7 linked regions of the Homo sapiens genome follow. The protein of the gene in region 4 interacts with the protein of the main gene of each other region in a pairwise test. Each region holds a gene or a part of one and is shown on either strand. Other genes may lie near its edges.

Region 1 (2,725 bases), on a different chromosome or scaffold from region 4:
GGCTGGGGCTGCTGGCTCACGCCTGTAATCCCAGCACTTCAGGAAGCCAAGGCGGGAGGATCGCTTGGGCCTAGGAGTTCGAGACCAGCCTGGGCAACATGGCAAGACCCCTCCATCTGTACAAAAAATACTAAAAGTCGCTGGGTGTGGTGACGCGCGCCTGTAGTCCCAGCTATTCAGGAGGCTGAGGTGGGAGGATCATCAAGCCCAGGAGTCTGAGGCTGCAATGAGCCGTGATTGCACCACTGCACTCCAGCCTGGGCGACAGAGCGAGACCCTGTCTCAAAAAAAAAAAAACAAAAAAAAAACCGTGACTGCACATGAGCTAACCACGCCTGTCCACAAAGTTAGGAAAACGAGCTACCCTCAGCCCGTCCGCTGTCCACAGTGGGGGCGCCAGGGGAAAGGGGTCAGCTTCCCCGCCTGGGGCTGTGTCTGGTTCTGATTGCACTGCAGTGAATCTGCCCTAAACCAAACGTCAGAAAGAAAAGCGGCAGACGTTTCATCACAACACAGAGACAGACAGGAGCCCGCCCTGCTTTAATGCGCATGCGGGGGAGCCGAGAGGCGGGGCTGCTGGCGGGGGAGCCGAGAGGCGGGGCTGCTGGCGGGGGAGAGCGTGTCCGGGCGCCGCACTCTGCGCAGGGCTCTTGGATGGCGCTCACCACGTCACGTCTTCTGTGCTTTCGGCCAAGCACTGGGCCAGGTGGCTGTCAACATCCAGCTGGGTCAGCCTGCAAGGGAGGGGCCACACTCACTCGGCCACCTCCGCGGCATGCTGGCCGCAGAGAGCACCGTCTGGACCTCCGGGCCCTCTCTGCTCCTGCCGCTGGAGAGGATCCGGCTGGTCAGAAACAAGGGACGGGGCCACCCCAGGGGCTCATGCACCCGGCAGACCACGGTAACCGCCAGTGGTGTTTCCACACCGTGCCCGTGAGGAGGCCACGCCAGGCCCCTGCGTCCGAGCTGGGGGTGGGGAAGCTGTGTCTCAACAAGCCTCTCTATGGGATTCTGGCGCCTGCTCAGCTTGAGAACGCGCTCATCGTGGAGCCCGGCAGACAGGCGGCCTGACCCGGAGAAAAGGCAGGACGGCGGGTGGCCTGCCAGGGAGAGCCGCCGCGGCTGCGTCTACAGGAGGCAGAAGAGTAAACATGGCTGGGCAGTGGATGTGCAGCTCACGTCAGAGAATTGGTGTTTCTGGCGAGGAGGGACCAAGCCTCACCACGGAGAAGGACGCCGTCACCGGCGTGCAGGCTGCCAACCTGCCACTCTGGGAGGCCCCACGCGGCCCCTGCACCTCTCAGGAGGGCGCTGGCGCTGGGATGGTGGCCGGCCAGGCAGGGGTGGCAGGAGAAAACCCATCCGAGTCCTGCAGGTCAGCGCCCTGGGCATCCAGTGGGGCCGGGAGGGGTGTCTGAGCGCAGCCACCTTCTATCCCCGGCCTCATGTGGCCCCATCAGCCCAACTGGAGCGGCTGGAAATGACCATCACCAGGCCTGGCCAAGGTGTGGCCCTGGAAGCCAGGACAGTTGACTTCCGGCCATGACTCCCGGAGAGTGCCGGAGCTGGCGTGCTCAGCAGAGCTGCCGGGGACGATGTCCCGGGGCTGAGTGGGCGGCTTCAGCCTAGACTTGGGCCTAGATCTTGCTGGAGGCCAAGTGGTCAGTGTCCCATCAGAGTGACCATCCCTCACACGCCACTGCTGGGGGACACACCCCCACTGAGCGGCCAAGTCCACAGGACACGTGTCCCTGTGTCCACCTGTCAGCCACACCGCCCCTCGCTCCCCTACAGCCTCTGCCCTCAGACCAGTCCACGGCGCGCCGTTTTACCCTTGGGCTTTGCTGTGTCCCTTCCTTTGGCTCCTGTGCCCCGTCTGTGTGGCCACTGCAACCCTCAAGTCCCCCTCTCCAGACCATAGCTGGACCCCCACTCCCGGGGCTGGCTCCAGCAGCCATCAGCTGCCTTCTCACTCTGGCAGAGCCCACCCAGTGCCTTCTGAAGCCCCCGAGGGTCACTCAGTCTGAGACTTTCCGGCTTCTGCCCATCCTGGGAACCAGCCCCTCCCTCCAGAAGCTTTCTCTAAGGTTGCCAGAAGGTGCTAAGATCTGAACCGAGGTCATCTTGTCCCGGGGTTTCCAGGCAGCGTCCCTTGTTTGGGGGCCCTCTGAGATGCCTTCAGACCCCCGCCTGTGGCGGAAGAGCTTTGTCCTGGCCTGATCTGCCCTGTCCGTGACGCTTCTGCTCAGTAGCTGAGCACGCCCTGTGGTGTGGACAGGCCAGCCCGGCTGCAGGACAGTGGGGGCTCAGTCCAGAAGCCTCTGGTGGCTTCTGCGTGTGGGCAGGGGAGCAGGGCTGCAGGGTGGGCTGGCACCTGGCAGCGTGAGGGGCCTCAGGGCTGTTAAAATCCCAACGACCGGCCGGGCGCGGTGGCTCACGCCTGTAATCCCAGCACTTTGGGAGGCCGAGACGGGCGGATCACCTGAGATCAGTTCAAGACCAGCCTGACCAACATGGTGAAACCCTGTCTCTACTAAAAATACAAAAATTAGCCAGGTGTGGTGACGCCTGTAATCCCAGCTACTCAGGAGACTGAGGCAGGAGAATCGCTTGAACCCGGGAGGCAGATGTTGCAGTGAGCCGAGATCATGCCACTGCACTCCAGCCTGGGCGACAGAGCGAGACACCGTCTCAAAAAAAAAAAAAAATCCCAGTGACCAACCCA
Region 2 (3,500 bases), on a different chromosome or scaffold from region 4:
GGCCCTGAAGAATGTGGCTCCCACAGTGTAACACCAGGACGCCCCATGGTGGGTCGGGAAGCTGGGCTCACCTTCTTGAGCTGGTCATTCTCCTCCATGTACTTCTTGGCCGCCTCACTAGCACTCTCCGCCTGCTTTTTAAAGGCTTCATTGGAGGCCAGCAGCGTGGCCTGCTGCGAAATGAGAGTCACCAGGCGTCTAAGCAGGCTGCAATTATTTACAAAAAGAAGGGAGAAGTGAGAAAAAGAGCATGAAGGGCTGGCAGGAGCACCTCCTGGTTGCTCCCACTCCACACCTAGCTCCAGCCTGGACCTGCCCTCTTGCCAAGGCAGCCGAGTGAGAAGCCGCCAACCTGGTGCTGGCAGCGTGAGGGAAAAGGTGGGGCCCAGGAGCCGTCCTCTGCCGCTGTGCCCAACGGCCACCCTCAGCTCTCAGAGGGGCTGGAAGCAGGAGCCTGGGGGGCTGGGAAGAGCCTCGCTACAGCATGAGGTCCCAGAACGCGGCACTTTCCGGGTCGGGGCCTAGACGTGCCAGACAAGCCACAGCACCACCTTCCTCCCTGCGAGGCTGGGCTTGCCTTGGTAAGGTAACGAGAGAAGCTAATCAATCCAAGCACTTCCAACATGCCAGGCCGCATCCTCACATCTACCTGATGAGGAAGTTACTATCACTGCCCCAGCTTATAGAAGAGGAAACTGAAGTTCAGCAGCGTAAATCAATGTACCCAAGGCCAAAAACCAGAAATGGACATGGCTGGAATTCCAAATTATGTCTGCCTGACTCCAGAACCTGAGCTCGGAACCACTCTGCTCTCTAAACTAACAGGGAACAGCTCCCAGGTCCCAACGTAAGATAGAACTCTCTTCTCTGGCCAGCCTCCTTCCCAACCCATCATGCAGGCTGCGCTGGAACACATCCGTTATGTAACAGCACCCCGAATGAGGTCTTCTTGGGCTGGAGGGTGTAGAGGAATCAGGACACAGGCGCAGGCTGCCTCTCTGAAGCAGCCAGGAGAGACAGGCAAACAGGTGGCAGCTGGAGGCAGATGCTAGTCCCCAAACAGAGATTGGAATGGCCACTTCATTTCCCTTGGTTCACCCTTGCCCCGAGATGTTAGCTGGCAGGAAGAGAGGAGGGAAGGACTCGTTCAAACAGTCAAAACAAGGCAGGGGTTCCTTTCTCACACACCTCAGAAGGCAAGGGTCACACAGGGCCTGGGGGAAGGAAGAGACAAATCTGCTTAGTCCAGAGTGCTTCAACAACAGCTTACTCAGAAGAGTCGAAGTGGCCTCCTGCCCCAGCCAGGCCTTCACACTTCACAGCCTCTGCTCATGGCCAGGGGCAGCCCGGAAGGGCTGGAGAAAGTAAAGAGCAGACAAGGTGAGCTACCTCCCTGGCCCAAGCCATGGCTCTCCAGGGCCTCGGCAGAGCCCCTTTCCAGATGTACTCAGGACAGAAAGTACCCACCCGGGCCAGGAGACACCCCTGAGGTTCCTGGTTTGGGGAGAGGCTCCCAGGGGCCCCTGGCAGCACCAGGAGAGCCAGGCCGTTGATTCCTGGCAGAGAAGGAGAGTTTCCAGTGACATGTGCTTTCTAAAATTAGCGGCCCAGGACCTCGTGGCCTAGGGCTCAGGTTTCCCTGCCTCAGCCCCCAGCTGCCCACCAGCCTGCCCCGCACTGGGCTACAGCCTGAAGGTGGAGGAAGCTACTGAGCGCCCTAGGAGCCAGAGAGAAACAATGCATCTGACTCACATCGGCATGGCCAGAAGTCAATGGAGAGGCCTAGAAAGAAAGGCAAGTCTGACTAAGACCCAGGCCCCCGGCAAGGAGCTGCCCAGCCCCAGAGCGGATCCCAGTGATGTAGAAAGAGGAAGAGGACCGCTCCTCCCAGCTGGAATTGAGGGGTGGGGGTCATGCCACCTGGTGGTAGAGAGAGGACCAAGCAAGACTGAAGGCTATACTCCCCGCCACCAGGCCAGGCAAGCGGCTGCTGGTGAGTGCCCATGGCTGTCACCCCAGTACCCAGGGAGATAGCTAACACAAATGCTTCCGCGGCAGTGCAGCAGAGGCCCAGCTCTTTTCGGACCGTCCCAGGCCCTTCCCGGCTATTGAGAACCAGGGCTTCCAAGATAGGCCAGGGCATACACAAAGTCCAGCGCAAGATCCACGCTGTGTGTGTCCGAAAGCCTGGCCCTGCTCAGCCCCAGCCCAGGCCTTCAGTTCCCAGCCTTGAGACAGTCTGGGGCTCCCCTCTGCCAGGCCCCGGTTCCCCTTCCTCTTGCCAACCCTCACAGGCGCTCCCCACCCCCACAGCACCCCGGGCATACTCCTCCCACTGCACCCCCAGCCCGATAGTTCTTTTTCACACCTTCTAGGTCCTCTCTCTTCCTGCTGGATGACCCGGGATCATTCTCCCCCCAGGAACCTCACCTTCAACTGCCTCCTTCCTGGAGTCACCCTGCCCAAGCCCCTGGTCTTTTCCCTCCCATATATTCCTCAACCTAGGCTGGCCAAGGCCTGCCCTTCCAAGCCAGCAGCAGGGCCACCAGTGGCCTCCTAACCGCCCAGGCCGGAGGTCACCCTGAACTCCTTGCTCTGCTGCTAAGTTACCCTCCTGAGGTCCCCTCGCAACACCCTCCTCCCACTGTTATTCTGCTCCCTCTGGGGTCTGCACTCTTCAGCTGACACCCTATACCTTCCTCCCAGCCACTCTTATCCCCGAAAGGGTTTTCTCTGTGGCCCAGACTCATACCTAACCTCCTGCTAAACATTGGCTCCTGGATGTCCCCAGAGACATTCTAGACTCAGCTTGTCCAAAACGGGCCTTCCCTTGTCCTGCCTGACCTGACCACCTCGTGTAGCCCCTGCTGTAGTGGTGGGCAGGCAAACCGCCTTGGACTCAGCCCTCTTGGCCCCCAGCCCAAGCCACAACCCAGCACTTTCCATGTCAACTGCAAACATGCCCACCATCATCCCCACTGCTGGCGCCTCCTCCCTATCTGCTGCCATACGGCTTTCCCATCCACCTCCCAGAGCAAGGCAAATCCGACCATGTCAGCCCTCTGCTTAAGCCACCTGCTGCCAGCACGCATGCCCTCAGTGAGCTCTCCTCCTTCACTAACCACGTGGCCCCCTGCTCTAGTAACACCTAACCCCTCACCATTCCTGGAACACGCCTGGCTCTGTGTGGCAGTTCTCCAGGCCGGAATGTCCTCTCGACCCAGCTCAATCCTCACCTCCCCCCAGAAACCCTTTTGGATCTCCCACCCCATCAGAGGGACGCCTTCTGGGGGCTCCTGCAGCAGCCCCCCAGGCACCCGCATGTAACTACCTCATTCTCTGTTCTCTGCGTGGCTGCCATCCGTTTATATGGCTGCCCTACCAGGCTATGAAGGTCTTTAGGCTGGGCACTGTGCCTTCATCTCTGCACTCCCATACCTGGCACACTGAAAAGGGGTCTTCCGCCCACTCCAGCAAGTATAGCTAAAAAAAAAAAGGGG
Region 3 (3,279 bases), on a different chromosome or scaffold from region 4:
TGTCTCAAAAACAAGGAAGAAAAAAGAAAGGACTTGCCAAGTAAGGTCCTCTGGGGTACACAGACCTGACATGAGGGATAATCTTCCCGTTACGGGGTTCCAGGGGAAGATCCCCTCCTAAAGAAAGAGAACCAAGTATTTCTAATGGGTAAGATCTAAAAACACTTCTCTGCACTCCCTCCTCTCCTTAACAGACTGACACTACTTTCTAAGGATGACAACCTAACTGAAATACAGACAGTCTCTGACTTACAATTTTTCAAGTTTACAATGGGTTATCAGGGTATTAAATGCATTTTCTACTTATGATGGATTTATCAGGATATAACCCCATCGTAGGCTGAAGAGCATCTGTATGCTTCAACTGAAAGGTCAGGGTCCATTTTTAAAGGGCCTGTGGAAAGAAGAGCCAGGTGGTGAATGGTGACAATGCCTATTTTCCATGGCACTGCTCATTAAGTCAACCTCGGTATAATTAGGAAAGACAAAATTCAAGCCAGTCTTGGAATCATTGGTTTAATGGTTCTGAATAAATGGTTAAGATTGATGTTTCCAGCCAAGTGAGATTTGGGTTTAGATATAGTTTGGGCTTAAGTATCCTTTATCTCAGATTAAATGAGACAGTGCATGTAAACCACTTAGAAGAATGCCTGGAACACATTAACTTTCATTACTAATGTTTTTGGTCATTCTTAAACATTTTCACTTCTGCCACCACCCTTTATGCAGTCTGGCACATAGCTGTCACTCAGCAAATGTGAGCAAACAAACACTAGAGACTTTAGTCTGCCAGGTCTCTAACATGCAAAGCCATGGGGCCAGGTCCATACACTCCCTCCACTGAGAAAAAGACAAATGGCTTAGGCTACAAGGTTTGGGTCACCAAGGAAAGCTGTCAAATAATGAAGTGGGTAAGCAGATTCCTAAAAATTGGAACCATTTCAGCAGCAGTTTCATCCACAGGGAGACAGAGTAAATGCTCTCTCAAATCTGTCTCACATCTATAGAAACCTTACTCTATTTATGGTCTTTTGGCATCTTGCTCTGCTATCTCACTTGAGATCACTCCTATAGAACTAATAGAGGAATAAATCAAAAGCAAACCAGTATAAGTAGAGACGCAATAAAATTTGGATGTCTTGAGTTCTGAGGGGCTTGCACACACTTGTTAAGGCATGCAGTGTGTGCTAGGGGCTTCAGCAGGGAACTCCACTCAAGGACGTGGTGTAGGAAGCAAAGACAAACCAACCCAAGTGGTACTGAAGAGGACAAGATGGGAAGGACATTTTTATTTTCCCTAATCTTCAGGCAACCTCACCAAGCTGGAGGTCACATGTAGCTGAGTGTGAAACCAAGAAAAATACGAAGCTTCAAAAGTACTGTGCGTTGTATTTCTTCATTCTCTGGCAGGCTGGGAGTCCAAGGTCAGTCTAGGCAGGAGGGCTGCTTGGCCTAAGCAGTCACACAATTTTCACCGTCTTGAGCATATCTGACAAGACATACGTGTCATCCCAACCCCTCCCAGGCTTCCTCAGGGTCCGCTCCAAAGCCTGGGCTGTTTCTAGGAGCTCTGGTGTGGCAAGTTTTTGCTCAGGGTGCAGCTGACAGAACAGGATCTCATTCACTTCACCCTCAATTCGCCGGACATATAGGAGGGGGAACACTGCCTTGAGCCCAGCCAGCACTGAGTCTTTTAGCCCCAAGTCTCGGCACACAAGGTTGAGAATAAAAACACCTATAGGGTAGGAAGAAAAGTCAGAATGACCTCACATCAGGAGACATATGAAAGACAAGGATCGGCTTTGAGGAAAATACCAATTCCTGTCCCAGGGAGACTGGTGGACTAAAACACACGGTGGTGATGAGTTTGCAGAGAATACACAGCATAGAAAGGCAGATGGAGAAAAGCATGGGGAGCATGTGAGCCATAAACAAACTCCAGCCTTATTTCTTGCTCTTCTGTGCTGCTCACATGTTATTTTACCATTCTCCAAGCCTCAGTTTCCCAAATAGCTTCTCAAAGAATAGCTTTGAGAAAGAAGTGATTCCCAGCTGGGCACGGTGGCTCATGTCTATGATCCCATCACTTTGGGAGGCTGAGGCAGGCGGATCACTCGAAGTCAGGAGTTTGAGACCAGCCTGGCCAAAATGGTGAAACCCCGGCTCTACTAAAAATATAAAAATTAGCTGGGCATGGTGGTGGACGCCTGTAATCCCAGCTGCTAGGGAGGCTGAGGCAGGAGCTGCTAGTGGGGCTGAGGCAGGAGAATCTCTTGAACCCAGGAGGCAGAGGTTGCAGTGAGCCAAAATCCAGCCTGGGTGACGGAATGAGACTTTGTCTCAATCAATCAATAGAAAGTGATTCCCTACGAAAGTAAAATTTACCAACTCCACAGGGATATTACATTCTTGGCATACACACCATAGAGTATTAACCAGTGACAGGGCCGAGGTTATCTTGACTTCTGACAATTAAGATTCCAAATCAAGCCAGTTACCACAGTGCCTTACACCAAATCAAAAATACCTAGAGGGTTGTTAACATAGGGATTAAAGGCTCCAGTTTTGAGGTGACAAGGCACTGACTTTGAGCCCCAACTGTTACCTTGCGTCACCTTGGCAAATCTTCAACCTCAGTTTCCTCATCCAAAAAGTGGACTGCTATGAAGATTAAATAACACACTGCCTAGTAGAGCACGTGTAGGAAGCATCATGTAGTAGCTAGCATCACCATGCTGGTGGGAGTGTGAACTGCTACAACCACTTTGTAAAACTGTGTGGTAGCATCTACAAAAGCCAAAAACATACCCATAACCTATGATCCAGCAATTACAACCCTGTGTATATACCCAAGAGATCTGAAAACATAATTCATCAAAAGGCATATACTAGAATGTTAATGGCAGCACCACTTATAATAGACCCACACAGGAAACAAACCAAATACGAACAGTAGAATGGATAAGCGAATTGTGTTAAGTTACATGATATAACACAGCAATAAAAATAAGCCATGTAAACACAACACTGTGAATGAGTCTCACAAACATCATGTTGAGTGAAAGAAAATGGACACTTAAAGAGTACATTCAGCCAAGTTCAGTGGCTCATGCCTGTAATCCCAGCACTTTGGGAGGCCAAGGTAGGAGGATCGCTTGAGGCTAGGAGTTTGAGACCAGCCTGGGCAACATGTTGAGATCCTATCTCTACAAAAAATAAAAATAAAAAAATTAGCCAGGCATGGTGGCATCCACCTGTAGTCCCAGCTACTCAGGTGAC
Region 4 (3,500 bases):
ACATTTTCCATTGGCTGTTCACTCACTGGCCCAGCTCCCAAATTCACTCTCCCTCCCCCTTGACCTTTCTCCCATTGAAACCCTGTCCCATTGGTCCTCACCATTAGCCCATCTTCCCATGGCCCCTCACCAATTTTCCCACTCCCCATCCTTTGGCACACTTCCCCAAGTAGCCAGTAGCCTGCTCCCCACCAGCCTCCCACTACTGACCATCTGCTGTCTTGCCCCAGCCCAGGATGTGGCAGCTGGTGGTGTTGGCTGAGCAGTCCCTCTCCAGGGGAAGGGGCTGGATGAGTTCAGAGAGTTTGGCTGGGCGTGCCAGGCGCAACAGCATGATGTCCTGGTCATGGCTGGCGGCATCATAGTCAGGGTGGATCACAGCCCGGACAACAGAACTCTGCTCCTGGGAACTCTCCCTTTGCCGAAGGTTATGCTTCCCCAGGAAGACCTGAAGATTCCTGGGAAGGAAGAGGGCTGGGTCTCACCTGGAGCCCTTGGGCTGCAGTTGAGGCTTCAGAGAGGGCTGGGAAGTCATGAATCGCTGGCCTGCTCCTCCCACAGTCTTCCCCAGCTGGGTAAATGGCAATTCCATCCTTTCAGAATAATCTTGGGGGCTATTCTTCACTCTCTTTATTTCATGCCCTACATCCAAGCTGTCCAGAATTCCTTTTGCCTCTCTGAAGCATATCCAGAATCTGGCCACATCTCACCTTTCCCACGGCTACCATCTTGGTTTGAGCTGCCTTTTCACTTCCTACCTGAACTAGAGCAGTAGCCTCCTCACTGGGCTCCCTGCTCTGTCTCTGGTCCCCCACAGTCCATCCTCCACAAAGCAACCAGAGATATTTTAACAATGTAAGTTGGTCCTGTGCCTCCTCTGCTCAGCCCCTCCTATGACTCCCATCTCACTCAGAATCAAAGCCAAAGTTCTCAACGTGGCACACCAGGCCTTGCAAGCACTGCCCCATCATCTCACAGACATCTTCTCCTCCCACTCTCCCCTTCTCTCCCTCTGCTCCAGCCAAACGCTGGCTTCCCTGTCTTGCCTTGAACACAATAGTGATCTTCCCACCTCAGGGCCTTTGCACTGCTGTTCCCTCTGCCAGCAAGTCTGTCCTCCAAGTATCTGCATAGCTCACTCCCTCACTTCCTTTAAATGTCGCCTCTCAGGGAAGCCTTCCTTAGTTGCCCAATTAAAATACAAATACCTGTTAGTAGGCAATTCCTATCTCCCTCCCCTGCTTTCTGTTCCACCAGAGAACCTATCACAATCATCCGACCTGCTATATATTTATTGTTAAATATTTACTCATTGTGTTATTTCTCCTCCTTGCAGAGCAATGCTGTCCACTAAATGCTACGATGCCATGATCTCGATCTGCACTGTCCAGAGGTGGCTGGGGGAACCACAAGCTACAGGTGGCTGCTGAGTACTTGAAATGTGGCTTGTGGATTTTCCATTTCATTAATTTCAATGTAATTTGCTATATGTGGCTGATGGCTACCATATTAGACAGTGCAGCTCTAGGATGTCAAGATGGGGATTTTTGTTCTATTCAGATATAGTATCTCCAGTGCGTTGATCAGCACCTGGCACAGGATAGGTGTTTGATACATATTCCTGAAACAGAGAGTCACTCCCTTGCTCAGACATCACCCATGGCTCCCCATTGTCCTAAGAATAAAGCCTGGGCTCCTCCACTTGGCACTGGAGCCCCTGTGTGATCTGGCTGTAGTCACTTTCCAACCTTATCTCCCAGCACCTTCTGCCCCCCAGTGAACGGGAAATTTTATTTTCTGAGAATACTCAAGACGGTTCTCACCTCAGGGGTGTTATCACAGCCTTTCCTCTGCCCTGAACATTCCTTTTCCCATCTTCATGCCTCCGCTTGGATTTTATCTCATTAGAAAGTCCTTCCTGACCCTCCTCCATCTAAAGTAGGTACCCGTATTCTTTTCCTTCATAATTTGTAATTATATGGGGTTTTGAAGGGTTTGCTTCTTTTGTTTGTTTGTTTTTTTGAGACAGGGTCTCGCTCTGTCACCCAGGCTGGATCTGCAGTGGTGTTCTGTAGATCACAGCTCACTGCAGCTTTGTACTCCTGGGCTCGAGTGATCCACCCGCCTCGGCCTCCCAAAGTGCTGGGATTACAGGCATGAGCCACCACGGCCAGCCCAATTTGCTGCTTCTTTCTTTCCTTTTTTTTTTTTTAGACAGAGTCTCGCTCTGTGGTTCAGGCTGGAGTGCAGTGGCGCGATCTCGGCTCACTGCAACCTCCGCCTCCCACGTTCAAGCAATTCTCCTGCCTTAGCCTCCCAAGTTGCTGGAATTACAGAAGCCCACCACCACGCCTGGCTAATTTTTTGTATTTTCAGTAGAGACAGGGTTGAGCCATGTTGGCCAAGCTGGTCTCGAACTCAGGTAATCCACCCACCTCGGCCTCCCAAAGTGCTGGGATTACAGGCGTGAGCCACCATGCCCAGCCCTCACTTTGCTTGTCTGCACCTTTCTGTCCTTGTGCTCCCGAGGGCAGGGATGACGTGTGTGTCCCATCCATTGCTGAATCTCCACTGCCCAACTCGAATGTGGCACTTAGCAGGTGCTCTTAGTCAATGTACATCAAAGGAATGAATGATGGTGGTGAGAGTCATCCAAGGTCTCCTTGGGGTCAGGGGAACCACCCCAGGGATTGTCACTTGCTATTTCCCTGCACCTCAGTTTCCTCATTTGCAAAATGGTGCCAAGAGTCCCTTGTGGTGGGCATTCCAGGAAAGGTGTGTACATGGTTTCACTCAGCACCTGATTGGTAGTTAGCATCAAACAAGTGGCAGCTGTCGTGAATCTGACTAGTGAGGATCAGCGCCCAGGGTTTTTGTCCTGGGCCCTCCAGCTCCTCCAACTATGCCAGCTTTTTGGATGATCTCATCTAGTCCCATGGCTTTAAATACACCTGTTTGCTGACGATGCCTTCATTTTAACCTCCAGCCCTGACCTCTCCTCTGAGCTCCAGAGTCCTCCCTGGCCTCCCTGCTGGGACATCTCCCCGGCATCTCCAACTCATCGTGGCTAAAGCAAAATGTCAGATGCTCCCCTGCCTACACCCGGCCTGTTTCTCTTTCCCTCTCCCACAACTCAGAGAAAGACGTGGCAAAACACCCAGTTGTTCAGGACAAATACACGGAAGCCAGCCGTGCTTCTTCCTCTCCCTCCTGTTCCTCGTTGCCAGATTCTGCTGGCTCAGTCTCAGAATTCCACATCCCAAGATATTCAACATCCCTCCATCCCCACTGCGACCGCCTGGGTTCAAGCCACCCTCCTATGTCGCCGGATGAAAGCAACAGCCCCCACGTGGGCCTCCCTCCCTCTCTCTTGCCCAGACCACGTTCCACGTGGTAGCCAGGGTGCTTGTAAAAATGTAAATCAGGCTGGGTGTGGTGGTGGCTCATGCCTGTAATCCCAGCTCTTTGGGAGGGCGAGGCGGGCGGATCACCTGAGGTCA
Region 5 (3,945 bases), about 46 Mb from region 4:
AGAGACAGGGTTTTGCCCTCTTGGCCAGGCTGGTCTCGAATTCCTGACCTCAGGTGATCCGGCCACCTCAGCCTCCCAAAGTGCTGGGATTACAGGCGTGAGCCACGGCGCCCAGCCAATTCTCTTCTTTTTCTTTGAGACAGGGTTTCACTCCTGTCGCCCAGGCTGAAGTGCAGTGGCATGAGCTCGGCTCACTGCAGCCTCAACCTCCCTGGGCTCAGGTGATCCTCCCACCTCAGCCTCCAGAGTGGCTGGGACTACAGGCCTGCGACACCACACCTGGCTAATTTTTTTTTCTTTGTTTTAAGTAGAGACAGGGTTTCACCATGTTGCCCAGGCTGGGAAATTCTCTAGATGGACCTGCAAGTTTTTGGTTATAAGGAAACTGAGTCACAGAGGGTCAGGAGCTTGCCTGTTTATAAAGCAGTGATGTGGCAGAATCAGAATTTGAACCCAGCCTTTAACCTAGTGCAATCCTTTCCTCATCCTAGTCAATGGCACATTTGGGGTTCAAGTCTCGTCTCTCCCAGAGCCCACCCCAGAGGGGAAGGATCGAAGCCTTAGGAAGCTTCTAGAAGTACTGTGTCCTGTAATCCCCTCCTCGGGCTTTTAACAATATCTTGTTGAATCTCCCCCACCCCTCAAAGCACCCTCCCTCCCCACAGTTATCTCAGCCCCACAAGAAAAAGGAGATGACCAGCCCCATTGGACAGATGGGGAAACTGAGGCCTAGAAGCTGGGGATTTACAAGATCCCAAGAACTCTGCCAGAGGTCCCTGCGTCAAAGCTCGAGCGGGTGTGATTCCAGGGAGGTCATCTGCTGAGGGGTGTCGGGAGATGCTGGGAAGGGGCAGGCATGCTGTGGAACTGGGCCGTTCCTGCCTCTCGCTCTGCCTCCTTGCCCTGCTCCCCGTCTGTAACACCTGAGCTGTACCTGGGCAAGTGTGAGTCATTTTTTAGCGTTGACGTCTCTCTGGGAGGAGTGTTCCCCTGTCAACGGCTGGAGTTTTGTCCTCAAGGCACCCTTTCGTGGCCCCATTGGACAGACAGGGACACTGAGGCCTCCGGAACCCACCATACTGAATTGTCAAGCAATCAAAAGACCCCTCACCCACCTGGGCTGACCCCTGGGGGAACGGGGATGAGGAAACTGAGGCTCTGGGGGCACCTGACCGTCGGTCCAAGGCCACACAGTGGGAGGGGCCGTACCGCGGGGCCTCAGACCTGCACCCGTCTGCAGAGCCACCCCACCATTGGAGCAGGGTTCAAGTCCCCCCCCCGGCCCCATATTCCCTGCAGGGGTCCAGGCACTCACCCACCACCTGTATCCCAGGCTGCTCCAGCCTCTGGCCAGTGCCCGATTCACCCAGGTGTTTGTGTGGCTGGAGACAGCCCTTTGTTCACGGTTTCCATAGGTACAGCGTCCCTGAGCGGCCCCTCCTCTGCCCCTCCCAGCCCTTGCCTGTGCAGGTCCTGGGTCCGGCCCATCCAGGGAGCTTGTTATGTTTCAAAGTTGGCGCCCTCGGACCTGCCGTAGTGGCAGAGGGCACAGCCCATGCAAAGGCCCTGAGAGAGGACCTCGCCTGGGGTGTTGGAGAAACAGGAGGAGGCCAGTGTGACTGGGGCAGAGCCACAGCGAGAGTCAGGCAGGTTATGAGCAGGGCCTGTATTCCTGCATCTGATCCCCCAGCAGCCCTCAACTTGGGGAGTTACGACCCACTCCTGTTTTACAGATGAGGAAACTGAGGCTCCGCAGAATTGAAAAACTGGTTCAAGATATCATGCGGGTGGCAGAGCTCAAACCTAGATTGGTCCAAGCTCCGCCACCACTGGGCTGGCCCCCCTGGGGCCTCCCAAGGCGTTCATCGCCTCCAGCTGAGCTGGGACTGGCTCAGGAAATAAACTCTGGCGGCCTGTTTACACCTGGGGCTGCTCCTCCACCAGCCCTTCCCCCCTCCATAGAGAAGGTGCTGGGAAATGTGAGGATGCAGAGAAAACAGATTCTGTCCTGCCTCTGTCCCCACTTCCCTGGACAAACATTGGAAGCATTGGCCTCTTTCTAGGCCTTAGTTTCCCATCCCAGGAAATGGGCCTAGTTCGACTTCACAGAAAAGGCCAGGAGGCGGCAGGTGTCCTTCAGATCACCTGCCAATTACCTTAGCAGCGACGGTCCCAGTTCACAGCTGGCAAAACTGAGGCCAAGTCCCCACAGGCCACTTGGGAGCTCATTAGGGGCCAGTCTGGGTGGGCCCGGGCTGGCCTAGGCCTGGCTCCCCGCCACCGATGCCTGGACCGATGCCTGGTTTAGCTAGAAGCTACAGTCATGCCCACCTCCGCACGGCTGGCCCAGCTGCCCACCGCCTGGAATGCCCTCAGGGTTCTGGAATCTGGCCTGAGCACCTGCGGCCCTACAGTTAAAGGGGGCAGAGTCCACTAGAGTCCACATGGGGGATGGGGGTGCTGGTCCCAGAGCAGAGCCCCACGCCAAGGGGGGCAATTGAGACTCAATCTGTCTCCCCCTAACCTATACAGCGAGAGTGACAGAGAGACAGACGGAAACTGAGGCAGGAATGTAGACGGACAGGCGGTGGGGTGCAGAAGCATTAAGGGGCGGGAGAGACAGAGGGCGGCCAGGTGGCCCCCGAGATGCGCTGAAATGGGGGGCGCCCCGGCACTGCTCGCTCACCTACTCTCGAAGCAGAGTCCGTACGTCCAACCGTCGGGGGTCCGTCCAGCCGCCTCCGTGGGCCGGGGCCGTTGCCGCGGCGGTGGGAGCAGCGCCGGAGCCGGGGCCGGGGCCGGGGCGGGGCGGGCAGCGCGGCCCCGCCCTCCACTCGCCTCGCCCCTCGGCAGGCCACGCCCTCCACTCGCCCCGCCCGCGCGGAAGGGACCGGAGAGTTGCCAGGCCTGGGGGGCGGGCCGAGCGCTCCGGATTAGCCAATGACAGGGCGGGCAATGTACGAAAAGGCCAATGGGAGCAGGGCACTGCGACGGGGGGGAAGTGGGGGGAAGGGGCGGAGCCTGGGGGCGGGGTCAGGCGGCTCTGGGGGATTCCTCCGGAATCGCGAAGGGGCCCGGATGCGGGGGCGAGGCCGTCGTGGGGGTGCCGGCCACAGAAAAGGGAAGAGATAAGAGTACGAGACAGACAGAGAACCTGGGGAGGGAGGCACAGAGACACCAACAGGAAGAGACCAGAGAGCCAAAAGGCAAAACAGACCAACCACGTGGTTCTGCACGGGCCCCTTCCTCCTTCTGGGGCTAGTTTACCCGCCTGGGTAATAGGAATTTCGGCAGAAGCGTGTTTCTCAAAGTACGGCCTCGGGGAACCCTTCGCGTCAGAAAGATCTGAGAGTCCATTTTAAAATGCAGATTCCAACTAGGTGTGGTGCCTCACGCCTGGAATCCCAGCACTTTGGGAGGCCAAGGCAGGAGGATCCCTTGAGCCCAGGAGTTTGAAACCAGCCTGGGCAACCTAGGGAGACCCTGTCTCTACAAAAAAAAAAAAAAAAAGAAAGAAAGAAAAAGAAGAAGATCAAAATAAGTTAAAATTTTAAAAATACAGAGTTCTGTGCCACAAGAAGGGATGAATCTAACCCAGGGTTGTGGGGCTATAGATGAATCTTTGGGGTGAGGTGGAGGGCTCCTGGAGACCTCATCAGAGGATCCCCAGGTCCAGCCTCGATTTCCGTAGGAATGAGCCTGCAGGACACACAGGAGCCTCCCGGCTGCGCAGCGCCAGCTGGGGTCCCCCGGGGAGGATGCAGCTGTGAGTCCTGGGAACCAGGCCCTGGAGCTGCTCCCAGGTCCCCTGCAGCACCATTTCCGCCCTGCAGCCCAACTCTGGGTCCCGGTTGCAGCTAGGGCCTAGGGAGCCCATAGCAACCTCGCTGCTTCTTCCTCCAGGAAGCCAGACAACAAATTGTTGAGGGCCTGTTGTGTGTCCTG
Region 6 (3,500 bases), on a different chromosome or scaffold from region 4:
CGGTACAGCTCTTTCTATATACTGCTGGCCAACCACACCTCATAGATTCTTGGTTAGTGCAACTGACCACCCCTAGAACACACAAAAACTGTCTAAAATGAAGTATTTTAAGGTATATTACTGTGATAGTTCATCTCTAAAAATAGCCTCCAAGGGGTTGCAGCGAGCCGAGATCGCACCACTGCACTCCAGCCTGGCAAGAGAGCGAGACTGTTTCAGAAAAAAAAAAAAAAAAAAATAGCCTCCAAGGAACCCAGCCTCATTCCCTTGTTCTCTTCTAATCTGAAACTGACTGGGCCTGTAATCTGCATTAACCAATAGAATGCAATAAAAGTTATACCATGTCACACCCAAGCCTCATCTTTAAAAGGACTGGCAGCTTCTGCTTCCTCTTGGAATGTTTGCTTTTGGGAGCCCTAAGCCGCTATGTAAGATATCTGACTACCCTGCTGGAGAGACCTGTGAAGAGCATACGTGGAGAGGAAGAGAGAGGCCCTGAGACCCCATGAAGAAAGAGAAAAGCCCTCCCCGCACTGCACCCCGCTGCCCCACTCTGACAGCCCAGTCCTCCAGAGGACTCCAGCACCAGAGGCACGAAGAAAGAGAAAAGCCCTCCCCGCGCTGCACCCCGCTGCCCCACTCTGACAGCCCAGTCCTCCAGAGGACTCCAGCACCAGAGGCCCTCTAACTGCAATGGCACGAAAGAGACCTGATTCATTACCAACCATGTATAAAAATACATTTATAAACATATATTCTGTAGGACCTTGAAAAGCAGTTTCCATTTTGTCCAAGTGCACTGATTTCAAAGTTTGGAACAGAAACAAAAGCAATGTTAGTACTTAATAGAAAAAAAAAGTCTCTGTTATACAATATCTAATACAGTTTCTTTACTTGCAGCAACTCATTTTCTACTTTGATAAAAGAAAACATGTATTTCAGGTCAGGGTTCGACAATGAAATTCTATTACTCAACTATACAAGAGACACAGTTAATTTATCACCATATTTTTCTCCATACCAATCCTATGTCCACACAGATCTTTCTTTGAAATGAATTTGGCGCTGATTACTAATGAAAACTGGCCTCCTCTGACTCATCATGAGTTTAAGGAAGTTCAGATAAGACGCATTCCTGGTTTTGGGAATATATGAAACTGTGATAGTTTTACAATAACTTAGTATTAGAAAATAGAATAGAAAAGCGATTTGGTCATGGAAAAGGAAAATCAAAGTGTTACATGATAAGCAATTCAGTTCATGGAGCTTTAGATTTATGCCCTTAAATCCACGAATAAAACACTTATCTTTATTGAATCTATTAGAAAGGAACGAGACAGTTTGACTAACATAAAAATGTATTCCAGGTAAAAGCATTGCACCGTTGGTGATTACGGAAGAAACAGGAGTGTGGTGTGACCATGAGGAAGCAAAAGAAAATGAGGAACTATACAACCATGAAGCAAACGCTTAGTCTCAGAGATCAGAGGCTTAAAGAAAAGGATAGATTAAAACCTAAAGAGAAAGAAAAGAAGGATCCCAGCGCGTTAAAGGAAAGAGAAGTTCCGCAACACCTTTCCTGATTATTTTGCCAATATAATACACAGCTGGGCCCACCTTACCACATCCTCGTTGATACCAACTTTATCAACTTTTCCATAAAAGCCAAACTGGACTTAGTGCAGTCAATGATGGGCTGTCTGCATGTCAAGTGTATCCCTTGTATAACTGATTGTGTAATGGCTGAAATTGAGAAATTGGGGCAGAAGTATTGAGTGGCTCTAAGGATCGCCAAGGATCCAAGATTTGAACAATTACCATGTACACACACAGGAACCTATGCACATGACTGCTTAGTACAGAGAGTAACTCAGCCTAAGTGTGTGTAAGTGTTACATTGTGCCCACAGTTGACCGGGACTTTTTTTTTTTTTTTCTTGAGAGGGAGTTTGGCTCTTGTCGCCCAGGCTGGAGTGCGATGGCGCAATCTCGGCTCACCGCACCCTCCGCCTCTCGGGTTCAAGCGATTCTCCTGCCTCAGCCTCCCCAATAGCTGGGATTACAGGTACCTGTCACCACGCCCGGCTAATTCTGTATTTTTTTTTAGTAGAGACGGGGTTTCTCCACGTTGGTCAGGCTGGTCTCAAACTCCCGACCTCAGGTGAAATCCGCCCGTCTCAGCCTCCAAAAGTCTTGGGATTACAGGCGTAAGCCACCACGCCCAGTGACCGGGACCTTAAAAGAAGAATCCATAAGATTCCTGGAATTCCTATCATGTATATTTCTTTTTTTTTTTTTTAAGACGGAGTCTCGCTCTGTCGCCCAGGCTGCAGTGTAGTGGTGCGATCTTCACTCACTACAACCTCCGCCTCTCAGGTTCACGCCATTCTCCTGCCTCAGCCTCCCGAGAAACTGGGACTACAGTTACACGCCACCACGCGCAGCTAATTTTTGTACTTTTAGTACAGACAGGGTTTCACCGTGTTAGCGAGGATGGTCTCGATCTCCTGACTTTGTGATCCGCCTGCCTCGGCCTCCCAAAGTGCTGGGGTTACAAGCGTGAGCCACCGCGCCCAGCATTTTTTTTTTTTTTTTTTTGAGACGAAGTTGCACTCTTGTTGCCCAGGCTGGAGTGCAAGTAGTGCAGTCTCAGCTCACTGTGGCTCTGCCTCCAGGGTTCAGATGGTTCTCCTTCCTCAGCCTCCTGAGTGGCTGGGATTGCAGGCATGTGCCACAGTGCCCAGCTAATTTCTTTTTTTTTTTTTGTATTTATAATAGAGACAAATACTTTTGTATTTTTAGTACAGAAAAATACACCTCGGCCTCCCAAAGTGCTGGGATTGCAGGCATGAGCCACCGTGCCTGGCCTACTCACTTTTTGATGCTGTTTTGAAATTGATATTTTGTCTCATAAAAATTTTAGTCCAGGCACAGTGGCTCATGTCTGTGGTCCTGGGACTTTGGGAGGCTAAGGTGGGTGGATCACCTGAGGTCAAGAGTTCAAGACCAGCCTGAACAACGTGACAAAACCCCATCTGTACTAAAAATACAAAAAAGGTTGGCAGGTTGTGGTGTTGTGTGCCTGTGGTCCTGGCTGCTGGGGAGGCTGAGGCAACAGAGTTGCTTGAAGCCGGGGGGCGGAGGTTGCAGTGAGCCGAGATCACACCACTGCATTCCAGGCTGGGTGACAGAGTGAGACTGTCTCATAAAAAAAAAAAAAGAAAAAGAAAAAAAAATTCAGTGATGGTCAAAGGGTACAAAATCTCAGACAGGAAGAATATGTTTTATACTTTTTTTGAGTTCTATTGTACAGTGTGGTGCATATACTTAATAATGGAGTATTACACATTTCAAAATTGATGTTCTCATCACAGAAATGTATTGGAAGTATTGGATATGTTAACTAGCTTTATTTAATTATTCCACATTGTATCCACAATTTATGACATCACTTTGTAACCCATAAATTTATACAATTATAAATTGTCAATTTACAATAAA
Region 7 (2,630 bases), on a different chromosome or scaffold from region 4:
CAAGACACAGGATACTGATCCTTTGGCAATGGGGGATGACAGTCAGATGACACCCACTTGCTTGCTCATCAGCATTGTCCATTGGAGAGGAGCTAGGGAAGAGGGTCAGAGGCACATGCGATCTTACTATAGTCTCATACCACCTCTACACCTTGCAGAAGGGATGAGAACAAAGGAAGACAGAAACCAGGAAAAAGCTAAACTTCTTTCGCTATTTCAGTAAAGACCAATGTCTTATTTCCAAACACTTTGTATTCCAAATGGAAAGAAGTCCAACGGCAAAAAGTTTAGAATACTAAGAATTTTTAATTCTTAGTAAGAATACTTAGAATTCTAAGAATTTTTCTTAGAATGAAAAATTGGGAGCAGCCTTCAACACTTACGGAAGCTGGATTTTCCTCAGGTTTCTTTGGCTCAGGTGCAGATCTGGAGTCTTGATCCTTTTTGCCATCTTTCCTGCAGAGACGTAAGCATAAAACCATGTCTTTAGGAAAGGACTCGCCTAATACAAACATGTGTATGCATGCAGTTTCAAGGCACTGAACAGGCACCTCTAGTCAACAGTCCTTGTTGTCTGGATGATGTATTACTTCTAGATTTTCAGAATCTTAACTGTCTACGTTGGCTGACTTTAGTTTGCTCACAATGAGCGATCTGGCAGTGCTCTGAGAACCAAGAACTTAATTTCTTAATTACACAAACATGTGGATCAGAGGAAAGATGAGAAAGAGAACAAGCATACCTATCTGACTCCTTCCAGTGGTCTCTGTTCCCTCCGTCGCCTGGACCACGGCTAGAGTTCCCAGTTTGGCCTTTTGGGGCATTCATCCCATCTACTTTATTTTCATCTGCTTGGGCAGTAATGTAAACAAATTAAAGGCAAGTAAAAGTATCAATGTCCCTCTCCTAAGATTTCCCTTAAGCTGAAGAAAATTGTGCCCACATGTACTGAGGGAAACTAACCTCACCCCAACCCAGACTTCCTTCCTGAAGCCCTTCTTTCCACATCCTCTACAGCACACAAAAATACAAAAAACAAACAAAATCCACTAAAAAGTTCCATGTAGGGATATGCCATCATGAAAAGCAAGCTGGAAATAAAGATTATGACGCTCTGTAGTGACCTTGGTTAATTTCCTTCCGATTTTTTTCTCCCCGTCAAAGAAATGTTCTACCAGGAAAGGGCAGGGTTTCATACTTTCTCCAAAGAGGCCACTCCTCCCTCTACTGGCAAGAAAAGGTAGATAACCCAATAATTCTTTTTTTTTTGAGACAGAGTCTTGCTCTGTCGCCCAGGCTGGAGTGCAGTGGGGCCATCTTGGCTTACTGCAACCTCCGTCTCCCGGGTTCAAGCAATTCTCCTGCCTCAGCGTCTCCCGAGTAGCTGGGATTACAGGCATGTGCCACCACACCCGGCTAATTTTTTTTGTATTTTTAATAGAGACGGGGTTTCACCATGTTGGTAAGGCTGGTCTCAAACTCCTGCCCTGTGATCTGCCCGCCTTGGCCTCCCAAAGTGCTGGGATTACAGGTGTGAGCCCCTGCGCCTGGCCAACCCAAGAACTCTTAACACGGTATCAGGTGCGAGACACACTGCTCTTCAAAATCTAATTTTGGAGGCCTTTTTATTTAGGCTTCTAGGTGAAAAACCTATTTCCCATACTATGAGCTCACCTTTCCTTCCTGGTCCTTCCTCAGATGGTTGAGCTGGAGCTACTTTTCCCCCACCACTAGAAGGAAAACAGGTAATCACATTCATCAGTTGTTTCAGGGAGAAAACAACCAAGAAACATAATCATCCTCCAAATGCAGTGGGTAAGCTTTATAGAAAACAAAATCATACTCAATGTTATGGAACATTAAAATATGGGAAAGATTACAATGAAAGCAGTAATTTGAACACTAAAGTGCCATATGCTTTCTAATCATCACATCATGCAGGATTAGTATTGCTATTTTCTTTTCTTTTGGAGTCTTAACTCTGTCGCCCAGGCTGGAGTGCAATGGCACATCTCGGCTCACTGCAACCTCCGCTCTCAGGTTCAAGCAATTCTCCTGCCTCAGCCTCCCGAGTAGCTGGGATTACAGGTACCTGCCACCACGCCAGGCTAATAGTGTTGCTATTTTGCTTACAAATGAGAAGACTTAAGAGAAATGAAAGGAAGTTACCCCCTACCATACTGCCAATATGTGGCAAAAGGGAAGCCTCTGACTTACAGTATTTGCAGATTTGTGCGGCATTAGTACTCCCATCATAGCTGATTTCAAGCTATCAAAGTGGTGGAACTCCAGAAAATGGAACAACTAGGTCTTATGAGCCAGTTCCAGCACACTAAGAGACTAAAGCCAGCATAACTTATAAGGTGCTATACAACGCTGGCATCCCGTAGGAGATCTTCCATCATTACATCACAGTATTTTAGAATCTGCAGTTAACCAACTACTGTTTCCAAACTGACTCACCTTGTAGGGGACTGCTGCTCTGTGTCTGAGCTCTGAGATCGAGCAGGAGGGTTAGAACTTCGCTTCACCCAAGCATTCTCCTTTGGTGGAGGGGCTGGCATTACCTTTAGGGGCTGATCAGGTTTGGGAGGTTTAGAAGTTGGAGAGTGGCAATCTTCCTCCTTATT

The links.
Region 1: the proteins of KLK6 (region 4) and FAAP20 interact in binary tests that used the Homo sapiens proteins (3 or more experiments, as listed by UniProt).
Region 2: the proteins of KLK6 (region 4) and BCAP31 interact in binary tests that used the Homo sapiens proteins (3 or more experiments, as listed by UniProt).
Region 3: the proteins of KLK6 (region 4) and METTL13 interact in binary tests that used the Homo sapiens proteins (3 or more experiments, as listed by UniProt).
Region 5: the proteins of KLK6 (region 4) and TNFAIP8L1 interact in binary tests that used the Homo sapiens proteins (3 or more experiments, as listed by UniProt).
Region 6: the proteins of KLK6 (region 4) and SDCCAG8 interact in binary tests that used the Homo sapiens proteins (3 or more experiments, as listed by UniProt).
Region 7: the proteins of KLK6 (region 4) and EIF4B interact in binary tests that used the Homo sapiens proteins (3 or more experiments, as listed by UniProt).

What each region holds. Positions count from the first base shown.
Region 1 is NC_000001.11:2,189,048-2,191,772, forward strand, and holds the end of FAAP20 (Fanconi anemia core complex-associated protein 20), read right to left. Parts: exon of another isoform or gene 751-2,725; intron 735-750; coding exon 662-734; 3' UTR 501-661; downstream 1-500. UniProt on the Homo sapiens protein: Component of the Fanconi anemia (FA) complex required to recruit the FA complex to DNA interstrand cross-links (ICLs) and promote ICLs repair.
Region 2 is NC_000023.11:153,703,888-153,707,387, forward strand, and holds part of BCAP31 (B-cell receptor-associated protein 31), read right to left. Parts: intron 208-3,500; coding exon 72-207; intron 1-71. UniProt on the Homo sapiens protein: Functions as a chaperone protein. Is one of the most abundant endoplasmic reticulum (ER) proteins.
Region 3 is NC_000001.11:171,794,938-171,798,216, reverse strand, and holds the end of METTL13 (eEF1A lysine and N-terminal methyltransferase), read right to left. Parts: intron 1,736-3,279; coding exon 1,461-1,735; 3' UTR 501-1,460; downstream 1-500. UniProt on the Homo sapiens protein: Dual methyltransferase that catalyzes methylation of elongation factor 1-alpha (EEF1A1 and EEF1A2) at two different positions, and is therefore involved in the regulation of mRNA translation.
Region 4 is NC_000019.10:50,963,092-50,966,591, forward strand, and holds part of KLK6 (kallikrein-6 isoform A preproprotein), read right to left. Parts: intron 1,420-3,500; exon of another isoform or gene 1,337-1,419; intron 576-1,336; exon of another isoform or gene 465-575; intron 459-464; coding exon 211-458; intron 1-210. UniProt on the Homo sapiens protein: Serine protease which exhibits a preference for Arg over Lys in the substrate P1 position and for Ser or Pro in the P2 position.
Region 5 is NC_000019.10:4,638,371-4,642,315, reverse strand, and holds the start of TNFAIP8L1 (tumor necrosis factor alpha-induced protein 8-like protein 1), read right to left. Parts: upstream 2,801-3,945; 5' UTR 2,687-2,800; intron 2,300-2,686; exon of another isoform or gene 2,157-2,299; intron 1,365-2,156; exon of another isoform or gene 1,316-1,364; intron 1-1,315. UniProt on the Homo sapiens protein: Acts as a negative regulator of mTOR activity.
Region 6 is NC_000001.11:243,266,041-243,269,540, reverse strand, and holds part of SDCCAG8 (serologically defined colon cancer antigen 8), read right to left. Parts: intron 1,921-3,500; exon of another isoform or gene 1,368-1,920; intron 1-1,367. UniProt on the Homo sapiens protein: Plays a role in the establishment of cell polarity and epithelial lumen formation. Also plays an essential role in ciliogenesis and subsequent Hedgehog signaling pathway that requires the presence of intact primary cilia for pathway activation.
Region 7 is NC_000012.12:53,037,456-53,040,085, reverse strand, and holds part of EIF4B (eukaryotic translation initiation factor 4B), read right to left. Parts: coding exon 2,464-2,630; intron 1,731-2,463; coding exon 1,675-1,730; intron 849-1,674; coding exon 743-848; intron 457-742; coding exon 384-456; intron 1-383. UniProt on the Homo sapiens protein: Required for the binding of mRNA to ribosomes. Functions in close association with EIF4-F and EIF4-A. Binds near the 5'-terminal cap of mRNA in presence of EIF-4F and ATP.